2 separate regions of the Homo sapiens genome follow, and region 2 is linked to region 1. The links come from fine-mapping of genetic effects on gene expression. A gene starts in region 1. The other region holds a variant in brackets. All regions are shown on one strand. Distances are from middle to middle.

Region 1 (8,539 bases):
TTAATGCAACTATGTCCCAAGTACTGAAGGGGGCATACTTACACTGAAAAAACATTCATTGTTTATGGAAATTTAAATTTAACTGGGTGTTTGCTTTGGAAAACAGCCTGGTTGTCTTTTACAAATTTAAAATATAGAGTTGCTGGGCGCAGTGGCTCATGCCTGTAATCCCAGCACGTTGGGAAGCCAAGGCAGGAGGATCGCTTGAGCCCAAGATTTTGAGATCAGCCTGGGTAACATGGCGAAACCTTGTCTCTACAAAAAATACAAAAAATTAGCTGGGCATGGCGGCATGTGCCTGTAGTCTCAGCTACTCCGCCCTCCAGCCTGGGCGAAAGAGCAAGACCCTGTCCCAAAACAAAACAAAACAACCCAAAACATAGAGTTACACCATATGACCCCGGAAGTCCATTCCTAGGTAAGTACCCAAGAGAACCAAAATATATCCACAAAGGCAGGGGGCGGTAGCTCACACCTGCAATCCCAGCCTTTCGGGAGGCCAAGGTGGATGGATCACTTAAAGGTCAGGAGTTTGAGACCAGCCTGGCCAACATGGTGAAACCCCCGTCTCTACTAAAAATGCAAAAATTAGCTGGGAGTGGTGGCGGGTGTCTGTAATCCCAGCTACTCAGGAGGCTGAGGCAGGAGAATCAATTGAACCTGGGAGGCAGAGGTTGCAGTGAGCCAAGATCCCGCGACTGCACTCCAGCCTGGGCATCAGAGCAACACTTCATCTCAAAATAAATAAATAAAGAAATAAATCTATGCAAAAAGTTGTATGCCAATGTTTATAGCAGCTCTATTCAGAATAGCTACCAAAATGTGAAAAAATCCAAGTGACCACCAACAAATGAGTGGATCAACAAAATGTACATGTACATATATACAATGGAATATTATTTGGTCATGAAACGGAATGAAGTACTGATATTTGCCACAACATGGGTGCATCTTGAAAGCATGATGCTGAACGAAGCCAGACACATAAGGCCACATGTTATGTTTTCATTTTTATGAAATATCCAGCACAGGAAAATTCATAGAACAGGAAGCAGATTGGTAGTTGCCAGGGGCTGAGAGAGGGGGAATGAGGACTGGCTGCTAATAGGTACAGGGTTTCTTTTGGGGATGATACAAATGTCCTGGAATCAGATCGTGGTGATGGTTACACAACTCTGTGAGTATGCTTAAAACACTGAATTTATTGCACACTTTAAAAGCGTGAATTTTATGGTATGTGAATTATATGTCAATTTTTAAAATTGTATGAGAAAAACAAGTTTTCCCTGGCATCCTGTATTTTTATTTGCTCAATCTGGCCACCATAACTTGATGCAATTCTACAGTACCTCATGGACAGTCAGGCCCAGTGACCCTTCCTAGGGTCCCCTCGAGCCTGAAAGCATACTCCAGTGTCCACACTGTACAGTGGGGCAGCCGAAGACAACTGCGGCTGCAGAGAAAGTGCGAGTCCCAGGGAAAGAAAAAATGCAGGTGCTAAGCCAGGCACAGTGGCTCATGCCTGTAGTCCCAGCGCTTTGGGAGGCTGATGCAGGAGCATCACTTGAGGCCAGGAGTTCGAGACCAGCGCGGGAAACATGGCGGTACTCCATCTCTACAAAAAAAACCCAAAAAAATTAGCCAGGCATGGTGGCATGTGCCTGTGGTCCCACCTACTCTGGGAGCTGGGGTATGGGGGCTGAGGCAGGAAGATCGCTTGAGCCCGGGAGGTAGAGGCTGCAATGAGACAAGATTGCACCACTGCACTCCAGCCTGGGTGACAGAGAGAGACCCTGTCTCAAAAAAAAAATTTTTTTTTAAATGTGGGTGCTATTTTGGGACTTTGGGCTTTTCTCAGCCTCAGTTTCCCCTCCTGCAAAATGGAGTAGAACAATTATCTTCAAATATCTGTGAGAGATGGTGTTTATGAGACACTTAGGGCAAAAAGGCAATCATCCTCAAAAAAGAAACTGACAACTGCAGCGGCTACCTGCTTTTGTAAGTAAAGTTTTATTGGCACCAGGGCCAGGATTAAAGGGAGGCAAACAAGGCTGAGTGGTGCAAGGACAAGGGTCTGATCATGTCTTAAGAGTTTTAGTGTTTTGGCCAGGCAAAACACCAAAACTCTTTGGCCTGCAATCCCAGAACTTTGGGAGGCTAAGGTGGGTGAATCACCTGAGGCCAGGAGTTCGAGACAAGCCTGGCCAACATGGTGAGACCTCATCTCTACCAAAAATACAAAAAATCAGCCTGGTGTGGTGGTGGGCACCTGTAGTCCCAGCTACTAGGGAGGCTGAGGCATGAGAATAGCTTGAACCCAGGAGGCAGGGGTTGCCGAGATCATGCCACTGCATTCTAGTCTGGGCAACAGAGAGACTCGTCTCATAAATTAAAAAAAAAAAAAAAAAGTTTTGGTGTTTTGGCCATATGCGGTGGCTGACACCTGTAATCCCAACACTTTGGGAGGCCTAGGCAGAAGGATCTTTTGAGGCCAGGAGTTCAAGACCAGCCTGGGCAACATAGTGAGATCCCCGTCTCTAAAAATAAAATAAAAAATAAAAGTTTTGATGTTTTGTTCATCATAAATGTTTTCATTAATTTTATGTTTTTAAAATATTATTTCTCTTGATGGCTGAGTTTTGTGGGGCCACCTTAAATTTTGCACAGGGGTGAGATCCTCACTCGCCTCACCCTAGAACCCGTTCTGCTGTGTGTACTGGGCACATTTTTTGTTGTTGTTTTGTTTTTGTTTTTGAGACAGAGTCTCGCTCTGTCGCCCAGTCTGGAGTGCAGCGGCGCTATCCCGGCTCACTGTAACCTCCGCCTCTTGGATTCAAGCGATTCTCCTGCCTCAGTCTTCTGAGTAGCTGGGATTACAGGCGCGCGTCACCACCCCCAAGTAATTTTTTTTTTGTTTTGTTTTGGTTTTTTTTGTTTAGTAGAGACAGGGTTTCACCATGTTGGCCAGGGTGATCTCGAACTCCTGACCTCAAGTGATCTGCCCACCTCGGCCTCCCAAAGTGCTGGGATACAGGCGTGAGCCACTGCGCCCGGCCAATGCGCTGGGCATATTGATTAACCTATCTTAGCCTCAGTTTCTTCATCTGCAAAATGGGGCTGAACGATGCTGCCTTACTTCTGAGAGGATTCATGCAAAATATTTACTTCTGCGCTCTGCTGGAGGGGCGGGGCCAGCTCGCCCAGTGGGGGCGGGGCCCTGTGGTCGGGCTCCCCGGGAGGGGCGGGGCCAGGCCGTGTCAGCTGACCGGCCTGGCCAATGGCACCTGGCGGCGGGGCCTGGCAGGCCGGGGCGGGGCCGGGGGCGGGCCTGGCGGCGCGGACTCCCGGGCCATGGACGAGTCGAGCCTCCTGCGGCGCCGCGGGCTCCAGGTGAGGCCCCTGCGCGGGCGGGCGGAAGGCAGAGGGCGCGGCCAAGTGGACGCGGCCTGAAAGGTGCCGGGAGGGGCGGGGCCTTCACGGGCTGTAGGGAAACTGAGGCAGAGGGTGGGGAACGCTCAGATCGCTTCTTTTTGACCACCCGCTTCTCAAAGTGCTTTTTCTCATGGTGGGAAGGGGGAAGGTGCCCCCTTGGACATCTAGGGAAACTGAGGCTCCAAGCGATGGCGTGGGAGGAAGAGGCTGAGGGCTCTGCCCCTCCCCACCAGCTGTTCTAATAATAATGCTAGCAACAGCAGCCAGAGAGCTCACCATATGTTCATGGTTGTTTTAGTCCTATTACTAGCGATGTATTAATATGAGTTCATATGTATTAATACCTCCTTGGGTCGTCGCTGCACCACTGTACACCCTCAGCTCAGCCCTACGACGACCTGGGGAGGTTGGGGCTGTCAGGCGCCCATTTGTCAGAATAAGGAAACTGAGGCTCTAGTCCCGGAAAGCCACTCTCCAGAGGTCGCCTAGCTGGGATTCGATCTGCGCCCTCAACCAGCTCTCTTACGGCACAAGGCGCTGCCAACCAGCAGTGTGACCTGGGGGGAGGGCACCCTTGCTTCTCTGGGCCTCAGTTTTCCAATGAGCCATAGGGTCCTCCTTTTACTGAGTTTATGTTTAGGAGGCTGTGTCATCAGGAGGTAGGGACACAGGCGTCGGGGACAGCAGAAGCCTAAGTTTGAAGCCACACAGGGACTACATGACCCCGGGCAGCCACCCTTTGACTTCTCTGGGCCTCAGTGTCCCCATTATAAGAAAAGAAAAACAGGAATTAAGATTTGGCCATTTTCCTCTGGGACTTAGACCACACCCTTAAGAAGCCACCAAGTTTTCAGGTAGGGAACCTGGGATTCAGCACTTACCCAACGAACATTTATGGAGCGCCTGCTGTGTGCCTGGCTCTGGAGAGGCAGCGGAGTGTTCTGCAACCTCTGGAGCTGCCCTCCTAGAAACCCCAACCTGTTGGGGGAGGTAGACGCCAGAGCAGCGGTGACCCCACGGAGTGATCAGTTGTGATAAGGGACTCACAGCAAGTGAAGGAGGCGCCTGACCCAGTCATTGCTGGGAGCCCTGGGGTAGAGGAGGCAGCCAAGGGTGGCGAGGCATTGCAGCGGGGGGCGGTATTTAGGGAAATGAAAGAGGTTGACAGAAGCTGGAACCTAGGGAGGACTGAGCAGGTGGGGTGGGGGTCGGGGACTGAGGTTAGCTCCGGGCGGGTTGAGGGGGTGAGAGGAATGGGGCCGGCGGGTCTCCAACCTGGAGCCGCACCGGTAGCTGCGGGACTGCGAACTCAGCAGGTGATGGGAAGCCAGGTCGGGAGTGGTCAGGGAAGGCACGGGCTGAGCTGCAGATCAGAGACACCCGGTCTCTGGCCGCGCGGGGGTGGGGCAGAACTGGAGGCGCTGAGGCCAGAGGCAAGAGTGGGGGACTTGGGCGGAAAGGAGGGGGCGGGGCGGGATTGGCGAGCAGCGTGGTGTTGGTGGGGGGGCAGTCCCGCCTCCAGCCCCAGTTAGATGCCAACCCGCCCGCAGCCTCTTAAAATAGAGAAACCGCCTCCGGGTAGGCGAATGGGGGTGCTGCTGACGTCAAGAAGTGGGGCCTGTTCCATGGTGGGGGGGTCAAACATTTCCTGATGGTAAGTTCTATGTTACAAAAGGGGAAACTGAGGTTCAGAGAAGCATAGCCACTGTCCGGGTTTCACAAAGTATAGGTGACAGAGTCAGACAGGATTTGAACCCACGCAGTTCCGGCTTCCTCTCCAAACCAACCCAGCACAGGCGTCCCTCCACGAAGGTGGAGGGATGAGCACGGATTCCCCGACTGAATGAGGGCATTCCGGGCAGAGGCCACAGCACGTGCAAAGGCCCAGAGGCATGTAGCCTTTCTTACCTGTTTATATGGGGAAACAAGAACTTGAACCTATTTCTTAGCACTAGAGGCTGATGGCCAGGACTTAATGCTTCCAGGGCCTTCAGTGCTGATTTTGAAGAGGTTAGACTTTCCCCCTAGGGTGATGGGGAGCTATGGAAGGTGCTGGAGCAGGAGAGGACATGCCCATATTGAGGGGCTGGGAAGACTCCTCTGGAGGGCTAGGAGCAGGAGTGGGGGAATCAAAAAGGGCAGGAAGCCAGGAAGGAGCATGGAATGAAAGTCTAAGTGTACCAGGTGTGGTGGCTCATGACTGTAGTCCCAGCTACTCAAGGAGGCTGAGGCAGAAGGATCTCTCTCTCTCTCTCTTTTTTTTTTTTTTGAGAAAGAATCATGCTCTGTTACCCAGGCTGGAGTCCAGTGGCGCAATCTCGGCTCACTGCAACCTCCACCTCCCGGGTTCAAGTAATTCTCCCTGCCTCAGCCTCCCGAGTAGCTGGGATTACAGGCACATGTCACCACGCCCGGCTAATTTTTGTATTTTTAGTAGAGACGGGGTTTCGCCATGTTGGCCAGGCTGGTATCAAACTCCTGATCTCAGGTGATCCGCCCACCTCGGCCTCCCAAAGTGCTAGAATTACAGGCGTGAGCCACCGCGCCCAGCCAAGAAGGATCTCTTGAGCCCAGGAGTTTGAGGCTATAGTGAGCCATGATCACGAGACCCTATCTCAAAAATAAAAATAAAGGTCCAAGTGGAAGAAGATTAAAATAATAATAAAATAATAGTAAAGTGGGAATAACCGTTCATATTAACAGGCTAAGCCCTCTCATGCATTCAATTCTCCCAACAGCCCGAGTGGTCAGTGCTATTATTAGTTCCACTTTTCAAAGGAAGAAACTGAGGCCCAAAGAGGGAAGTACCCACCAGGAAGCCAGAGAAATTCTAACCAATCTGGCACGTGAAGGTGTTGTCTTCATCAGCCCCAGTTTGGGGTCTCTTTTGACTGGAAACCTTGTTAATGGTCCAGGAGCACCCCAGCCAATCAGGGGGTAGATCGCTGATGCGAGCCAATCAGATTTCCTGGAGGCCAAAGGCCAAAGAGTCCATTCACAAACGGGTGCTGACCGGCCAATCCAGACGCATAGCCCAGGGCGTCCTCTCCGGTGGTGACAATGTGAGGCGTGCTGTTGGCTGTGTGCAGGAAAGGTCTGAAAAAGGATCCGGCCTGGCCCGCGGGCGGCCAGTTTGCGACAGCCCTGGGTCCAGGGAGGAGGTGGAGACCTTCCCAATTTGGGTTAAACTCAGCCTCACGCATAACGTGTGCAGGCACCGGGTAACGTGAGCTGTTATTACTACTACTACTATTATCTTATTACATTTATCATCTCCTACTTGGACCTTTGCTTTACACATGACCGAATTTCAAAACACCAGGTCCCACAAACAGAGCATCCCCCGGCAGAGAAGGGCTAGAGCCTGTATCTGGACTTTTGTCTCTGCCGCTACTGGGGTGGCTCCTCTAGGTTCAGCCCTCCAAGGTGATCCTGCTTTCTCATGGACAGCTTCCACTTATTTTCCTCCTCCTCCTCCTCCTCCTCCTTCTCCTTCTCCTCCTCCTCCTCCTCCTCCTGGAAGCCCTGGGGCTGGTGCCATGTGGTCCATGCTGACTTCTCTCCCATTTAATTCCAGGGGCATCGAACTTCCAACCGGGCTTGGTGCCCAGCAGGCTGAGTCTCACCTCCCTTTGCACGTGCTGTTTGCTGGGCATGGACTGGTGTTTTCCATGTGCCTGCAGGCTTTGTTTGACACCCCCTACTCCAGGAAGCCCCTTAGCTCTCCTCTCTGTGTGCCTCCAACCCCTCTTCTCCCTTTGAGTCTCTCTTTTTTTAGACAGGATCTTGCCCTGTCGCCCAGGCTGGAGTGCGGTGGCCCAGGCTGGAGTGCAGTGGCGCCATCTTGGCTCACTGCAGGCTCCGTCACCTGGATACAAGCGATTCTCACAGCCTCAGCCTCCTGAGTAGCTGGATTACAGGCGAGCGCCACCACACCCGACTAATATAATTTTTATATTTTTTAGTAGAGATGGTGTTTCACCATGTTGGCCAGAATGGCCTCAAACTCTTTTTTTTTTTTTTTTTTTTTTTGAGACGGAGTCTTGCTCTGTCGCCCAGGCTGGAGTGCAGTGGCGTGATCTCCGCTCATTCCACCTCCCAGGTTCATGCCATTCTCCTGCCTCAGCCTCCCGAGTAGCTGGGACTACAGGCTCCTGCCACCACACCCGGCTAATTTTTTGTATTTTTAGCAGAGACGGGCTTTCACCGTGTTAGCCAGGATGGTCTCCATCTGCTGACTTCGTGATCCTCCCACCTCGGCCTCTCAAAGTGCTGAGATTACAGGTGTTAGCCACTGCGCCTGGCCTTTTTTTTTTGAAACGGAGTTTCACTCTTTCGCTCTTCTTGCCCAGGCTGGAGTGCAATGGCACGATCTCGGCTCACCGCAACCTCTGCCCCCGAGTTCAAGCGATTCTCCTGCCTCAGCCTCCCAGGTAGCTGGGATTACAGGCATGCGCCACCACATCCTGCTAATTTTGTATTTTTAGTAGAGACGGGGTTTCTCCATGTTGGTCAGGCTGGTCTCGAACTCCTGACCTCAGGTGATCTGCCTGCCTCAGCCTCCCAAAGTCCTGGGATTACAGGCATGAGCCACTGCGCCCGGCCACCTTTTTTTTTTTTTTTTTTGAGACGGAGTCTCATTCTGTCACCCAGGCTGGAGTACAATGGTGTGGTCTTGGCTCACTGCAACCTCCGCCTCCGGGGTTCAAGGGATTCTCCTGCCTCGGCCTACCGAGTAGCTGGGACTACAGGCGCCTGCCACCACATCCAGCTAATTTTTGTATTTTAAGTAGAGACGGGGTTTCACTATGTTGGCCAGGCTGATCTTGAACTCCTGACCTTGTGATCCGCCCACCTTGGCCTCCCAGCGTGCTGGGATTACAGGCGTGAGCCACCGCACCTGGCTCAAACTCTTGATCTTAAGTGATCCTCCCGCCTCAGCCTCCCAAAGTGCTGGGATTACAGGCATGAGCCACAGCACCCAGCTGCTTCGGGTCTCTCTTAATCCCTCCAGTATGGGGGTGCTCCTGCTGTGCTATGTCTTCTCCAAAATGGGATTTCCTCAAGGTGGGGCTAAAGCTTGTTGGGGAGGCAGCATCCCCCAGCC
Region 2 (8,530 bases), 74 kb after region 1:
TGTACCCAGAACCCTCTCTCCTCAGCCAGACCCTGCCTCCCACCGGACAGGCCCACTGTGGGCTCAGCACCCACACAACTGCACAAGCCCACCTTTCCTGTTCCTTCTCAGGTGGCTCACCCAGAAAGGCGCCCGGCAGAAGAAAATCAACGAGTGGCTGGGGATTAAAAATGAGACTGAGGAGTGAGTGACCGTCTGGAGGGAGGCAGGGAGGGCTTCCCAGAGGAGGGGGCCATTTGGGGTGGGTTTCGAAGAATGAGTAGGAGTTCACCAGGGAGGAAAAGTTGTCCAGGCAGCTGGGGAGCCTCGGAGGCTGGCAGGTGAGTGACCAGGGCCCTCCCCGCCACCGCCCCCCACCCCAGCCAGTACGCACTCATGGAGGACGAGGACGATCTCCCGCACCACGAGGAACGCACTTGGTACGTGGGCAAGATCAACCGCACGCAGGCAGAGGAGATGCTGAGTGGCAAGCGGGATGGCACCTTCCTCATCCGCGAGAGCAGCCAGCGGGGCTGCTACGCCTGCTCCGTGGTGTGAGTGGACCGCAGCGGTGGGGATTCCCGCGTCCCTCCCAGAGCTCTCATTGAATGCCTGCCGCGTGCCAGGCCTTGGGAAGGAGTCCCTGGTGGGGTCATCCGGGACAGGGGAGCACGCGGCCCTGGAACGGGGAAAGCTTGGCGGGGAGGCCAGCCTTCCGACTCCCCCTCTCGTCTGCCCCCACAGAGTGGACGGCGACACCAAGCACTGCGTCATCTACCGCACGGCCACCGGCTTCGGCTTCGCGGAGCCCTACAACCTGTACGGGTCGCTGAAGGAGCTGGTGCTGCACTACCAGCACGCCTCGCTGGTGCAGCACAACGACGCGCTCACCGTCACCCTGGCGCACCCAGTGCGCGCCCCGGGCCCCGGCCCGCCGCCTGCCGCCCGCTGAGCACCGAGGACCCGCCCCAAGCAGAGCCGCCCCTGGGCCCGTCTGCGCCGGAGGCTGCGGCGGCGGGAGCCACGGACCAGACCAGCCACATCCAGGGGTCCTCATTTCTCCGGCTCTGGCTCTTGTTTGGGGTTCTCTCACCCTCTTTCTCTTTCCTTCCCTCCCCCATTCTCCAGATCTCCCTCTGTCTCCTTTTCTCTGTCTTTCTTGGCCCCTGTCTCTCTCCATGTTGGGGGTCCTAACTCCCCCACCCCATATCTACGTGTCCTCCGGGCATTGCCCTCTCCATGGCTCTGGTCACCCTGACCCTCTGCCCTGCCCACCGCAGGTCCCCCGGGGTCCCGGAAGCCCCTTCTGGCTGCACCTGCCATGTTTACAGAGGGCCCCTGGGCTGCGCGGCCCCAGCCTGGGCACCCTGATTTTTAAGCCATAGACCTGGGGTCAGGGCAGGAAGGAACTTCACTCTGCTGCTTCCGAGAACCTCGGCCGTGACATTCGGGGCCGGGCGGGACCCGCCCCACAGACTCCAACTTCCCCTCCAAACCCCGAAGTGAAACCCGCCACCGGGTTACCCCCACAAGGGGGCCGCTGCGAGAAGTTCACCCACCCCCGAAAAAATAATTAAACTCGCAGGCCAGGCACGGTGGCTCATGCCTGTAATCCCAGCACTTTGGGAGGCCAAGACGGGCGGATCTTTTGAGGTCGGGAGTTGGAGGCCAGCCTGGCCAAAATGGCAAAACCCCGCATCTACTAAAATACAAAAATTAGCCGGGCGTGGTGGCGGCCGCCTGTAATCCCAGCTACTTGGGAGGCTGAGGCGTGAGAATCTCTTGAACCCAGGAGATGGAGGTTGCAGTGAGCAGAGATCGTGCCACTGCACTCCAGCCTGGGTAACAGAGGGAGACTCCTCCGTCTCAAAAAAATAAATAAATAAACTTGTGAGCTGGCCCCAACCCCTCCTAGGAATCACAGCTCCCCGTACTGGTGCCGCCGCAGTGGCCAAGTTGCGACACTGCCCACGGCCCCTCCCTCTGATGCAGATTCAGGGCTTCTCTTCGATCATGTTGGGTTTTGATTCTGTTTTTCCTTGACTGCAAAACCCTCTTTCCTCTCCTCTTTTGGGACAAGAGCCCTGGTTTTCTACGCTGCCCTTGGCCACCACACTGCCTGCCCCACGAGCTGGGAGGCAGGTTTTGTACGGTACGTTGTTATTGATATGATATAAAACATCAAACGTCGTGGGTGATTCTGTTGTCAGTGACTGGGCTTCAGTACCACCTCTGCGTGTCGGGGACCCTGGTGTCTACGGGGGTCACAGCAGGTCGGACCCGTGGGTTTAACTCCAAGCCCCTCTGAGACCCGACAACCCCTCCCTCCCCCAGTTTAGCTGCTCAAGCCTGGAGAGGTTGAGGCAGTGCCCAAGGTCATACAGGAGAGAGATTCGAATCCTGAGCTCCCGACTGCTCAGGGGACCCCAGACCCCATCCAGCCCCTCAAGTGCTTCCAAGCTGCTTCCCCCGCCCACCGCCCCCAAATTTGAATCCTGTCGCAACCATCAGCTGTGTCCTTGGGAAAGTTGTATCCCCTCCCTGATCCACAGCTTCCTCATTCATTGCCAAGTGGCGTCAAAAGTCAAAACCCTCCCATGCCACAGGGAGGAGTCTCCCGTGTCTTTGATGTTCTCAAGTCGTCGGCACCTCCAGCCAGCATTGGAGGCTCTTCTCTGACCTCTCCTCACCCACTCCCATGCACAGCCCGCCGGGTCCCAGGAGACGCTGAGCAAAAGCCCTGTGGGGTTTTTTGTGTTTCTTTTTAAAGAGTCAAGGTCTCTCACTCTGTCACCCAGGCTGGAGTGCAGTTGTGCGAACACAGCTCGCGGCTCACAGCCTCAAGCTCCTGGTTCCCAGCCTCAAGCAGTCCTCTCATCTCAGCCTTTAGAGTCACTGGATTACGGGTGTGTGTCACCATGTCCAGCTAATTATTTTTAAATTTTTTTAGAAACAAGATCTTGCCGAGTGCAGTGGCTCACACCTGTAATTCCAGCACTTGGGGAAGCCAAGGCAGGCAGATCACTTGAGGTCAGGAGTTTGAGACCAGCCTGGCCAACATGGTAAAACCTGGTCTCCACTAAAAATACAAAAAAAAATTAGCCAGACATGGTGGCGCATGCCTGTAATCCCAGCTACTTGGGAGGCTGAGATAGGAAGATCAGATGAACCTGGGAGGTCAA[C/T]GCTGCACCAAGCCAAGATCGTGCCACTGTTCTCCAGCCTGGGTGACAGAGTGAGACTCTGTCTCAAGAAAAAAAAAAAAAAAAAGGGTCTTGCCCTTTTCCAGGTGGGTCTCAAACTCCTGGCCTCTAGTGATCCTCCCACCTCAGCCTCCCTGAGTCGCGTAAGCCACCACGCGTGGCCTCATGGCGTCTTTGACTTGGACTCCTGTTTACCACCCTCCCCATCACACCCAGAATCCACACCCCCACTGCGACGTCATTGTCCCTTCAGCCCTCCCCAACCCTGGGGCCTCACTGTCCTTGTCTGTTTTGTACAGCCACCTCTCAAGGCCCAACAAGGCTGAACCTGGGGCAAGTGCAGAAAGAAACCTCCACTCTGACCCAGTCTACTGCTGGGACCTTGGGACAGGACCTGCCTCCCTTAGCCTCAGAGCCCCCTAGCCTTGCCAGGCACTGTCCCTGCCATGTGTCCTGTCTGGAGATAACCCATAAATAACTCCAGCCCAGATTGTGCCTCTCACTGCATAGGTGCTCACAGGAGAAAGGTTGCCATCTTTATGATCCCAGCTATGCTGAGCTGGGGGTGGAAGAGAATATCCCGTGTGGTCTCTAAAAACACTCAACCACTGGCTGTGTGTCCTTGGCAAAATAGCCTTCCCTCTCTGATCAGCCATTTATTTGTTACCAGCTGGAGTCAGTAGCACCTACCCCCAGCCCCAACTGGATGCTTCTGAGGGTTCAATGATAAAATGGGTTGTAGGCCCACTCTATGCCTGGCACCAAGCCAGAGAGCAATACATTGTAGGGTTACATTTATGATTTCTTCCAATAGGGCTGGTGCCTGGTAACTACTGGAAAAATTGTAGCAATTATATTTATGGTTATTTCTTCAATCCCACCCGGCATAGGGTAAGCACCAAAGTTGGGGTGGTGAGTCTTGGGGAGCCTTTGCCAACGGTTTGGTCGTCTGAGGGATGGGCTCGGGGACCATCCAGCCACTGGGACTTCAGAGAAGCTCCGGCTCCCAAACCAGCTACTGTGTGTGTGGCCAGGGTCTTCCCCACAACTAGAGGGGGGCACAGCTGGGGACTCAGGTATATCTTCCAGCTGGGTGTGGGACATTTTCTTCCCTAGGATCCGATGTGTCTTGCCCTGAATGTAAGGCCTGGCAGGGTTGGAATGTCTCAGTTATTCCCCCAACACTCCAGCCTCCATCTGGGCCTTTTTTCCAGGCTATTCTCTCTGCCTTCACTGTTGGGGCCACTGTCCTGTGTAGGCACCAAGGCCTGACCATGCCATCCAGAAGCCCCAGCCTGGGACAACTCTCCCCCACCTGCCTCTGAGCCCTCCATGGTGACTCTTGTTCCCCAAACCTTATCCTTCTCCCCATTACACAGAAGGGAAAGCTGAGGCTCTGTCACTCAAATCCAAAGCCAGGTGGACTCCAAGCCACCCCACCCCTATCCCAGACAGCACAGGCTGCCTCTCTCCCCCATGGGCGTCCCTTGAAGGCCAGGTTGCCCCCCACCCCCCACAAGCCTTGAACGATGAAAAGAAGGAAGGCCAGTTCTCTTCACCCCAAGCCAGAAGTGGGGCTGGGTGGGTACCCTAGAGAAATGACACGCCACTCCCTGCGCCAGCTTCTGCTTTCCGGCGTGGCTGTGGTCAAGCCTGAGTCAGTCCCACGGGACCACGGTGAGGGGTCTGGAGCGTCGGGGTCAGGAGTTTGAGGGGGGAAGGGTTGAGGGGCAGGATGTGGGGGTTGGGTGTGAGGGAGGTCACGGGCGAGACTGGAGGGAGGAGACCTGGCCACACAGGCCTTGCCCACTCTCGGGGGCCTGAATATTTCAGTTACTCCCCCAAAACCCCGGCCTCCATCCCATCCCCAGCCTCCATCCGACGTCACCCCTGTTAGGTCACAGGCCCACTCTGAGAGTGGGTCTCGGGCCTCAAGTCCCCTAGCCGCCCCTAGAAGGTCTAGGGGTGCGTGGAGACACCACCATTCCTCTCAGCCTGTGTCTGTCTCAAAGGCCCCACCTCACCTCCCCTAAAGGTAGTCTTGCGCCAGGGCTCACGTGCCTGGGCAGGGCTGATTGCCAAGGGGCCCAATGGCCTCGTGACTGGGGACCCAGCACCTGGCAGGGGTGGGGGTGGGACACTCAGAGGAAGGAGTGGAGGAGGGAGAGACGCTGGCCCGGGACCCGAGGGGCGTGGGCATCGGGAGGCGGGCCCGGGTTAGGGGCGGGACCGCCGCCTGGTTAAAGGCGCTTATTTCCCAGGCAGCCGCTGCAGTCGCCACACCTTTGCCCCTGCTGCGATGACCCTGTCGCCACTTCTGCTGTTCCTGCCACCGCTGCTGCTGCTGCTGGACGTCCCCACGGCGGCGGTGCAGGCGTCCCCTCTGCAAGCGTTAGACTTCTTTGGGAATGGGCCACCAGTTAACTACAAGGTAGGGACGGCGACAGGGCGGGCAGGCTGGAGGGAACAGGCGCCCTGTCGGGGCACGCGGCTCCTTCTTTCTCCCCAGACTTCACAGGGGAAGACCAGGGCCCCGAGGGGACGCTGTCCCTGCCGGGTTCCTGGAAAAACCCTGTTCAGTTCCCGGCGCTGCGGCCACACTCCCTCCGTGCCGTTTCGCTTTCGCATCCCGCATCTGAGAGGCGCAGCTGCCTCCACCCGCCTAGTCCCGCCCAAGGGTTCAATGAGCGCCTACTGTGTACTTTTGGGGCAGGAGCTGGGGTCTCCTTTTGTGGCCCAGGGCACAAGTTCAGCAGCTGGCCAAGGGCCGCCGGCATGCATTCTTGCTGCTACCCTTGATGCATTCATTCCAGCCAGGGCAGGGCTCGCGTGTCTTTGGGACCTATTAGGCAGATGCCCTAGAGGCTGAGCGACTTGCTCACCGCTCCAGCGACATGGGCCACCCGCCACCCCTCAGCTGAAGCCGGAAGTCAGCACCTATTAGGTGCCGCCTCTATTCAGTCGGACTTGGAAAGGGTTCACGTGGATCCCTTGCTCAGCTCAGAGGCAAGGTCTCCAGGTGAAGTGACAAGAAATGAGCATGGGCCAAGGCCGGAGGCGGTGGCTCATGCCTGTAATCCCAACACTTTGGAAGTCTGAGGCAGGCAGATCACGAGGTCAGGAGTTCGAGACCATTCTGGCCTACATGGAGAAACCCTGTCTCTACTAAAAATACAAAAATTAGCTGGGTGTGGTGGCATGTGCCTATAATCCCAGCTACTCAGGAGGCTGAGGCAGGACAATTGCTTGAACCAGGGAGTCGGGTGTTGCAGTGAGCCGAGATCGTGCCGCAGCACACCAGCCTAGCGACAGTGAGACTCCATCTCAAAAAAAAAAAAAAAAGTCTCAAAGTCAAGATTCCACCTGGCAAGTTCTGGAAGGCGTGCAAGATGAATTGCGTATCACAGCCCCCTTTCTACAAGACTACCAAGTGGGGTTGAGAGAAGTGGGGAACTGCCCAGGGCTACACCTGCCTCCCACGCCTTCCTAATCCACAGACAGGCAATCTATACCTGCGGGGGCCCCTGAAGAAGTCCAATGCACCGCTTGTCAATGTGACCCTCTACTATGAAGCACTGTGCGGTGGCTGCCGAGCCTTCCTGATCCGGGAGCTCTTCCCAACATGGCTGTTGGTCATGGAGATCCTCAATGTCACGCTGGTGCCCTACGGAAACGCACAGGTGTGTGGGCGCTGGGGAAACTGAGGCACGTGGGCAGGGGAGCAGGGGACCCAGCCTACCAGCAGGCTCTCACCCTGCTGCCTTGCAGGAACAAAATGTCAGTGGCAGGTGGGAGTTCAAGTGCCAGCATGGAGAAGAGGAGTGCAAATTCAACAAGGTGGAGGTGAGCGGCCCCAGGGCCCCACACTGGGGTGGGGGAAAACTGTCCCACGTACAGGAGGCAAATACGAGGATGCCAGCTCTGTCTTCTGCCTCGTGTGCTCCCATTTAATCACATCTTTATTCCCTATCTCCTGGGTGGGTACTGGTGATTATTACGAGAGGGTGTCAGGGTACCCTAGGCCCTCTTCATGCCCTCTCCTGCCCCCTCTCCAAACCCCAGGCCTGCGTGTTGGATGAACTTGACATGGAGCTAGCCTTCCTGACCATTGTCTGCATGGAAGAGTTTGAGGACATGGAGAGAAGTCTGCCACTAGTGAGTGACGCCCCTCACTCCACCCAAGGAGGGGGACATGGGTGGTAACCTTCCCTGCATCCAGGCAGACCCAAATTCAAGTCCTAGCCCTGACCACTGCTGTCTGTGCAGCCCAGGAAAACAACTACCCTTCTTTATTTTATTTATTTTTTTATTTTTTCTTGAGACAGAGTCTCGCTCTGTCGCCCAGGCTGGAATGCAGTGGCGCAATCCCAGCTCACTGCAACCTCCACCTCCAGGGTTCAAGTGATTCTCCAGCCTCAGCCTCCTGAGTAGCTGGGATTACAGTTGTGTGCCACCATGCCCAGCTAATTTTTGTGTTTTTAGTAGAGACAGGGTTTCACCATGTTGGTCAGGCTTGTCTTGAACTCCTGACCTTGTGATCCGCCTGCCTTGGCCTCCCAAAGTGCTGGGATTACAGGCGTGAGCCACCGCACCCAGCCCTTTTTTTTTTTTTTTTTTTTTTTTTTTTTTTGAGACAGGGTTTTGCTCTGTCGCCCAGGCTGGAGTGCAGTGGTGCAATCTTGGCTGACTGCAACCACTGTCTCCTCAGTTTAAGTGATCCTCCTGCCTCAGCTTCCCCAGTAGCTGGGACTACAGGTGTGCACCACCATGCCCGGCTAATTTTTGTATTTTTAGTAGAGACAGTGTTCACCATGTTGGCCAGGCTGGTCTCAAACTCCTGACCTCAAGTTATCCGCCTGTCCCAGCCTCCCAAAGGATTACAGGTGTAAGCCACCACGCCCGGCCCCAGCCTCCCCTCTTGAAGCCTCCATCTCTGAATCAGGGGAATGAATGCAGGTCTCTTAGGAGCATGAGTGATCACAGAGGACTTACTGGAGGAGGCATTTCTGAGCTGGGCATGGAAGGATGAGCAGGAATGTGCAGAGACACAGATGATGGGATGTGGAGATGATAGGACAGACCCCACCTACTTCCCCGGGGGATTGTGAAGAATGACTCCCAGAGAAGTGACTCATTGGCTCCAATCATTTATTCATTCATCAAACATCCGGGTCACCCAAGAGGCCTCACCTAGTGACACCCTAGTCCTGCAGGGTTAGATCAGGGCTGAGAGAGTGGCAAGGAGAGGGCACTGAGGAGACACTGTGGAAGGAGGATGAAGGGTGTTCCTGGCAGAGGGATCAGCCTGTGTGGAGGTCCTGAGTAAAGTGAGATACTATGGGGGTCAGAGG

What was found.
Region 2: its variant is fine-mapped to the expression of MAST3 in whole blood (TOPMed, PIP 0.97).

What each region holds. Positions count from the first base shown.
Region 1 is chr19:18,094,442-18,102,980 of GRCh38, forward strand. It overlaps MAST3 (microtubule associated serine/threonine kinase 3), which reads left to right and starts at 3,337. Exons shown (of 28, transcript NM_001393504.1): 1 at 3,337-3,390. The coding sequence starts at 3,352. It also overlaps a transcript of IL12RB1 not described here. RefSeq lists a silencer at 3,072-3,581.
Region 2 is chr19:18,168,364-18,176,893 of GRCh38, forward strand. It overlaps PIK3R2 (phosphoinositide-3-kinase regulatory subunit 2), which reads left to right. Exons shown (of 16, transcript NM_005027.4): 14 at 112-183; 15 at 363-533; 16 at 724-2,169. The coding sequence ends at 931. IFI30 (IFI30 lysosomal thiol reductase) reads left to right here and starts at 5,450. Exons shown (of 7, transcript NM_006332.5): 1 at 5,450-5,610; 2 at 6,677-6,859; 3 at 6,948-7,022; 4 at 7,242-7,334. The coding sequence starts at 5,479. RefSeq lists enhancers at 71-220, 2,548-2,767, 5,815-5,884, 6,012-6,677 and a silencer at 5,195-5,504. The variant C/T (reference allele first, on the strand shown) is at 3,162.